Linked DNA regions of Homo sapiens. The protein of the gene in region 2 purifies or fractionates together with the protein of the main gene of each other region. This does not show direct contact. Each region holds a gene or a part of one and is shown on either strand. Other genes may lie near its edges.

The links.
Region 1: the proteins of GSC (region 2) and IAH1 purify together in Homo sapiens (affinity purification with mass spectrometry; one large-scale study listed by BioGRID and IntAct). This does not show direct contact.

Annotation. Positions count from the first base shown.
Region 1 is NC_000002.12:9,481,051-9,484,550, reverse strand, and holds part of IAH1 (isoamyl acetate-hydrolyzing esterase 1 homolog), read right to left. Parts: intron 3,266-3,500; coding exon 3,104-3,265; intron 120-3,103; coding exon 1-119. UniProt on the Homo sapiens protein: Probable lipase.
Region 2 is NC_000014.9:94,767,723-94,771,429, forward strand, and holds GSC (homeobox protein goosecoid), read right to left. Parts: upstream 2,392-3,707; 5' UTR 2,294-2,391; coding exon 1,939-2,293; intron 1,496-1,938; coding exon 1,236-1,495; intron 928-1,235; coding exon 769-927; 3' UTR 501-768; downstream 1-500. UniProt on the Homo sapiens protein: Regulates chordin (CHRD). May play a role in spatial programing within discrete embryonic fields or lineage compartments during organogenesis.

The sequences.
Region 1 (3,500 bases), on a different chromosome or scaffold from region 2:
CTGGCTGTCCTGCATCAGGGTCCACAGGTCAAGTACGTCAGTCCCACAGTCTTGGGCCACTTGTAAACACGCATTGGCATATTCACCAACAACAGAGTTCAGGCGATTTAGTTTGCAACCTATTGAAGAGAAGAAATAGAGGTGGCAGTTGGTAAACCCAAGTGCTGGCCCTTGTGTAAGTTCTGCTCCACTCATCTAGACAGTTTCAAAATGCCATTAAATATTGACCCCACTTGGGCCAGCCCCGGGGTTTAGGGTATATGTTGATGAGCCTTGCAGGTTACTGGTGTGCTGCTCTACCCAGCAGAGGACAAGGTGCAGTGGGAAGAAGGAGCCTTCAGTGGTAACCGGAATCTTCTGAGGCGCCAGGGAGGATGTTCTAGAGGACACCTTGAACAGAGGCAGAGAGGCAGGAAAGGCCCAGGAGGGCTGGGCTGCTTGGAGAGTGCCGGCTGCAGGAGCTGGGCTGGGGGCTGGTAAGGGCTGCACTAGTAGGAAATGCCAGGCCATGGAAGCTGAACGCTGCGCTGACACCGCTGGCTTCTTACATGTAACAGCTGGACCGCAACACAGCAAAATCATTTGTCGGCTTTAGACAAAGAGACCTTCGTTTTGATGCCTACAATTTTCACTAAATAGCGGTGTGCCTGAACAGCTTAACCGTCCTGAAGCTTTCTGCATTCTTATGATGACAGTGCCTACCTAGTTGCAGGAATATTGGCAGGATTAAGAGACTAAACACCAGCAAAGCAGCTAGCACAGAACGATTGAGTGTATCTAACACAAGTGCAGGCTGCCTCATCCTCCCAGGGAGCTGCACCAGGGAAGGCTGGAGTGCAGTATCTGGGGATTGTGCTAGGTTGGTTTGGAAGGTGGGGCTGGGGCTAGGGGAGAAGGCTCAGGAGGCTGCAAACAGGACAGTGAGGGCTGGCGAGAGGCGGACTACAGAATGGTATTAAAGAGAAAGCATGAGGATATGGGCAACTGGATGCGGGCCACAGGAGGACCTATGCTGGCCCAGGCTCTACATCACAGCGAAGAAACTATTCACCAGCTTTGATTCATACTTGGGATCAATTGTTTATAAAATTCACCTAGATTATAACTAGCTACCCCATCCCTACAAAAAAATTTAAAAAATTAGCTGAGCATGGTTGCACATGCCTGTGGTTCCAGCTACTTGGGAGGCTGAGGCAAGAAGATCACCTGAGCCCAGAGGTGGAGGCTGCAGTGAGCTATGAGTAATCCACTGCCCTACACAGCCTGGGTGACACAGCAAGACCATCTCAAAAAATAACCTGCTGAATTTCTAGGGGACCAGTTATTGAGATGTGACCCCTCCTCTACCTGCTTTGCCCATCACTGACCTTTTAAAAAGTCTGCATTGGGCTACATTCAAGGCTAGAAAGGGGAAATGAAATTAAACATTCAGAATTTCATATATATTATTTTCCTGGGAAACAGTAGACAAAAAGAAGTCTAAACAGCTTCTGTGGACCATGCTATGTAACATTTTTCCCCTTTTGTTAAAGCCAAGATGACACTGCCCCCCAAAGCAGTTAGGGCTGCAGGCCCAGAAGCAAGCTGGGGCTCTGAAGTTGTCTCCAGGGGAGCTTTGTGGGCCTTAAACACCTCCCCTTCCCTGCAGAACACTCTGGTGTCTCATGCACAGCAATAGGGCCCCTCTGCCCTGATGTGATGCCCAGAACCTACTGTCACCACGTCCCGCAGGCTGGGGTTTCTCCCCGTTTGTCTGTGCCTCCGGTGTGTGGCACCCCTTGGCATATGCTGTTTGTGACTTGAGAACGCATTGGATCCTTCTCTAAGGATGACAGGCCCTTTGAGAGCAAGGGACATAGCTACAACCCCACTCAACAGTAAACTCATACAACAGTAAGGACTTGAGCTGTGAAGTCACACTTGCTGGATTTGATTCCTGGTTGTGTTGCTGGCTGTGTGATCTTGGGCCGGTTACTTAGCCTCTCTAAGACTCCATTTCTCCACTGGTAAAGTAGGGACAATAACAGCCTTCCATGAAGTTGTGGTATGTGTGCTGTGGTGTGTGTAAGAAACATCTGGAGTGCTGAAAATGGGTCCAGAAATCTACCTAAAAATCCCAGTTAACTCAGAGTCAGACCACACTTTGAGAAATAGCTGTTCTGTGTTGCAAAGCCAGTCATTTGTCCTAGAATGTTGAGTTCTGGGCAGCTTAGAAAACTTCCAGTCCAGGAACGGTGGCTCACGCCTGTAATCCCAGCACTTTGGGAGGCTGAGTCGGGCAGATTACCTGAGGTCAGGAGTTCGAGACCAGCCTGGCCAACATGGTGAAACCCGTCTCTACTAAAAATGCAAAAATTAGCCGGGCGTGGTGGTGCACACCCATAATCCCAGCTACTCAGGAGGCTGAGGCAGAATTGCTTGAGCCCAGGAGGCAAAGGTTGCAGTGAGCCGAGATCGTGCCACTGCACTCCAGCCTGGCTGACAGAGCCAGACTCTATCTCCAAAAAAAAAAAAAAAAGAGAACTTCCATAATGCACATTTTCAACATTAACATACAGCTGACCCTTGAACAACACAGGTTTGAACCGTGAAGGTCCACTTATGTGCAGAGGTTTTTCAGTCAAAGGTGGATTGAAAACACAGCACTTGAGGGATGTGAAACCCAAGTATATGGAGTGCTGGCGACTCCTATCTGATCATTCCTACCCCCAGCTTCTGTGGACCAGTAAAAAGCCCCAGGTGTGGACTTCCAAGTCAAGGCACATCAGCATCAGCCCCCGCAGGCCGAGCACCACAGCTCTACACAGATCTCAGTGGCCTTCATGTGCACCCTGGAGTCTGGTAACTGTAAAGGTCAGCAGATGCCAGGCCCGCGGTTCCCTCCTGACTATCCAAAGCCAGAATCCCTTTTCTAGGTCAAAAAAGGTCTCAGGTATAACATAATGGAAGCTATAATTTAATAATTTTGGATTGAAAACAGACTGAAATGGACATACCGAGCCCCTAAGAAACAGAAGCCCCAGGCAGGAAACCACTGTCCTATCAGAGTTCCTCCCTCAGCATTCCTATCCAGATTTGCCGAGATTGGCTGTGGTTTGTTTACCTTGTATGATGCACTGTTCTTCCCAGGCTGTTTCACAAAGTGGGGTCGGCGTGATGAGAATGACTCGATTCTCAGGGATGTCCACGGACTTCAGGTACTGCACCATGCTCTTTAGGTTCGCAGCGTACTCCTCCAGGGGAATGTGCTGCTTGGGATTCTCATCTGCTCAAGAGAAACATGAGTCCTCACCAGATGCATATTTATTATAAGTGACAATTCAGGTGAACACACTTCTGCAAATGCCTGTTATTCATGATGTCACTGGGGGGATTGTTTAACACCAAGGACACAAAGAGAAGGTTTTCTCCTTATGAATTAAAATGTATAGTTCTTCATAAAACAAGACTTCAAAGGCTCTAACTAGGGGCACCGTAAGTACTCTTGTCTTTTCGTCACT
Region 2 (3,707 bases):
CTGGAGCATCTGTGGAAGTTCCAGGAAAGCGCTGGGGGAGGTGGCATGCCCGCTGCCTAATTCCCCCGTGGACCCGCCGCCTTAGGTTTCTCAGAAGCAGGGCTGAGCAGCTTGGAGCAGTGGGCTCCGTGGGAGCTCCCGGACTCCCCTAGCTCCCACCTCATCAGTGAGGGAAGAAGTGCTCCTTCTGCCCTCGGCAGAGGGGAGTCAGGGACCCAGGCTGCCCCTCTCAACTGCAATGGTACCTCCTCCCGGCTCTGGCCCAGCAATGCTACTCTCCAAACCTTCCTAGACATAAGGTTTCCTTTTAAACCAGGACACCCATGCTGTGACTGTTACCCAGAGCTTCATTTCTTGTTTGTTTGTTTGTTTAGGTAGATCATAGCTGCTCAGTTTTTTCCTCCGGAGGTTACGGACTACATAGACTTCTTTTCTTGGCTCCAGACTGATGGTGGTGGGTGGGTGGGGCGGGGGGTATGAAATACAGAATGTGGCCCGTCTACATCGCCATCACTTTATTGTACTGTCACCCTTAATTTAACTATAAATACTACGGTGGGGGCTAGTCGCGGGCGGCCTCGGGCTGCTGGGCTGTGCGCGCCCTGACCCCAGACGCCGACCCTCCCGGCTCTGTACACTATTTACAGCTCCTCGTTCCTCTTTCTCGACCCCCTCCCGCAAGGCAGCGCGTGTGCAAGAAAGTAGCATCGTCTGTCTGTGCAAGTCCTTCGAGTTAGGTAAGTAATACGGGCAAGTGTCCCGCGGCCGTCAGCTGTCCGAGTCCAAATCGCTTTTACCTTCCTCTTCCCTCTTCTCCGGTGACGCCTTCGACGACGACGTCTTGTTCCACTTCTCCGCGTTCTCCGACTCCTCTGATGAGGACCGCTTCTGCCGCCTCCATTTGGCGCGGCGGTTCTTAAACCAGACCTGTTGCGCAACGGAGGACAAAACAGTTCAGATCAAAGGCGCGCTTCCCCCAGTCCCGGGGCACCCGGGGAGCTTGGTGTGGCGGCGGGACACCCCGCGCAGGCCAACAAAAGGAGGGGAGCCGCTCGCTCCCGCTTCCGCGTTTTCATTCAACTTCCTGGGCCTAAAGCGCCCTCCAGCAGCCTGCGGGCCGCCATCGGGATGTTTTTAAAGTGCGGGGAGAGCCAAGCAGGGCTGGGCAAACCCGACTGGGGCCCCACCTCGCGGGGAAGGACCGCTAGGCGCCCACGGCAGGCCCCGGCGCCTACCTCCACTTTCTCCTCGCGGAGGTGCACTTTCCGGGCCAGCTGCTCGCGCGTGCCCACGTCCGGGTACTTGGTCTCCTGGAAGAGGTTCTCGAGAGCTTCGAGCTGCTCGTCAGTGAAGATGGTGCGGTGCCGCCGCTTCCGCCGACAGTGCAGCTGGTTGAGAAGCTGCAGCTCGGTGCGCGACAGCGTGCCCACGTTCATGTAGGGCAGCATCTGGTGCGGTACCGGGGACACCAGCACCGAACCGGGGCCCTCGTAGCCTGCGACAGAGTGGGGCGCACGGTCAGCCGCCCGCCCTCGCCACCGCACGCATGCACGCCCGCCAGCCCCCGACCCTCTTCCACTTAGAAGTCGTCTGCAAGGGGATGCTGAGAATTGGGGGTGCACGGGAATCAGGGGTGCAGGGAAAAGGAGGAGGCGTGTTAGAGCATCCATCCGCACACCCGCCAAAGCCAGTAAGAGAATTCAAAACAAAACAAAACAAAACAAAACCCAGTTTCCCCGGGCAGGCACTGAATTCCAGTTTTCGCGAACTCTGGCCAAAAGTTTGCAGCAAGAAGTTTGCAAACTCCTGCGCCCGATCGGCAAAAGCGGAGGGGGGAGTTGCAAGAGGAGCAAAGTTTGAGGAAGGTGAATTAACCAACCGGCTCCATGGGCTAAGGACCGCAGTGGGCGGCAGAGGCCGGAGCGAGCGCGACCCTACCTGGGGGCGTCGGGACGCAGGAGCACTGCTGGGCGCCCAGCGGCGGCACGGCCCCGCAGCAGGCCGGGCCCACGGGCGCCGCCTGCACGTGCAGCTGCCCGTAGAAGTAGTTGTTGTAGCCGAGGCGGGAGCCGCTGACCGCGGCCGGGAGGCCCGCGCCGCCGGGGGCCACGGGGCGCGGGTAGAAGGCGCCATAGTCCGAGGAGGCGCCGCCGCTGGCGCCGTAGAGCGAGTCCCCGTGCAGGGCCGGGAAGACGACGGGAGCCGCCGCGCTGTGCGCCACCGGCAACACCGAGTCCTTGCAGCGCGGCCGGGCGGCTAGGATGTTGTCGATGCTGAACATGCTGGCGGGCATCCCCGAGCCCCGCGTCGGGACCGGGGGGCGGCGGGAACGCGCCGAGGACAGAGCCTTAAAGTGGGGGGGTCCACTCTCCTCCAGCCGCCGACCAAACCGAAAGAGAGCGCCGGCGAGCGCGCAGCCCTGCGCCCCTCCCCGCCCCCTGCGTCCGCTCTCCCTCCTCCCGCCCTCCCCTAGCCGCAGCGTTCGCTGAACTCAACCCGCGGGTAGGACGGAGCTCAGACCAGCTGAACCTCTTGTTGGTTTTATACTGAGTCGACGTCATCCTGGATTTAGTTCCTGGTAATATGCAGATGACAAACAGAACCAGATTTGGCCCTTTCTTTTCCTTTGGGTGGGGGAAGAGGGTTGGGGGGAGGGGGAGAGGTGCCAAGGGGAGGGGGTTACAAGGCCTGAAAAGAGATTGTGGATTGCGAATTAATGAAATTAACCTAATCTTTTCCATTCGGCAGCCGGGCCGCGGGCCGGCCGAGCTGGGCGGGCGGCCTAATTGCCTTGGTTAATCTCATTAATTCCTTTGTGCCGCCGCAGTTAACAACTCCCTCCGCCCGAGCTCTCCACCCCCACCCTTTTTTCTCAGATTGGGTCCTATTATTGGGTGCGATTTCCTCTGCCTGTAGCTCAAATTCATTGTGGACGATTTTACTTTGGGGCTACTTTTTTCCCCCTTTCGGAATTGGTTTTGTTTTAGAAAATGTGAGGGGCTGCATCCCCTCTCAAGCAGGATTGAAAATTCCACCACTCCTCCGCGCCCCCACGTACTCACCGCCTGATTTACCTCTTTTTTAAATCTTGAGTTTCTCTCCCGAATGGAACTTGTTAACCCCCCCAAAAAACTTTTGGTTTTGTAAAATCCAAATTTTGTAAAGGCAAAAACGACTAAAGGAGGGGTGCATCGTGCTTCTTAAAAAGATTTTTTTTTCCAGCCACTCTGGGTCTGAAAACTACCATGGCAGTCCCTAGGTCCTACACAGCGAAGACCAAATTCAGCCGCTCTTTAAAATTCGCCACCAAGAGTTGCAGTCTGAAGCGGTGCTTCTAGCTGCTCCCAGCGTGGGTGTCGGTAGTTTTTGTGCTTTTAAAAAATTAGTTTTGGAAATGTGGTGCCTTCTCTCCCAAACTATTTTTTTGATTTTCAATCCAGATGGGGTCTTTGGGACTTCCCTATCTTCTTCCCCAATAATTGGGTCGCATTTTTCCTTACGACCTGCTGGCTGCCGGTAGGCCTGCCCTTCCGCCTGGCAGGCCCAGAGTGGATTCCCTGGGCCGCAGTGGCCTGGACGATGGCCGGGTCTGATAGCGGCAGGCGGCCGCGATGATTTGCGGGATTCTCGGCATGGCACGGCCAGCCTGCCCGAGCCACGGGAGGCGCAGCCAGCCCACCACTCACGGCAAGCAGGCGGCCGAGCGC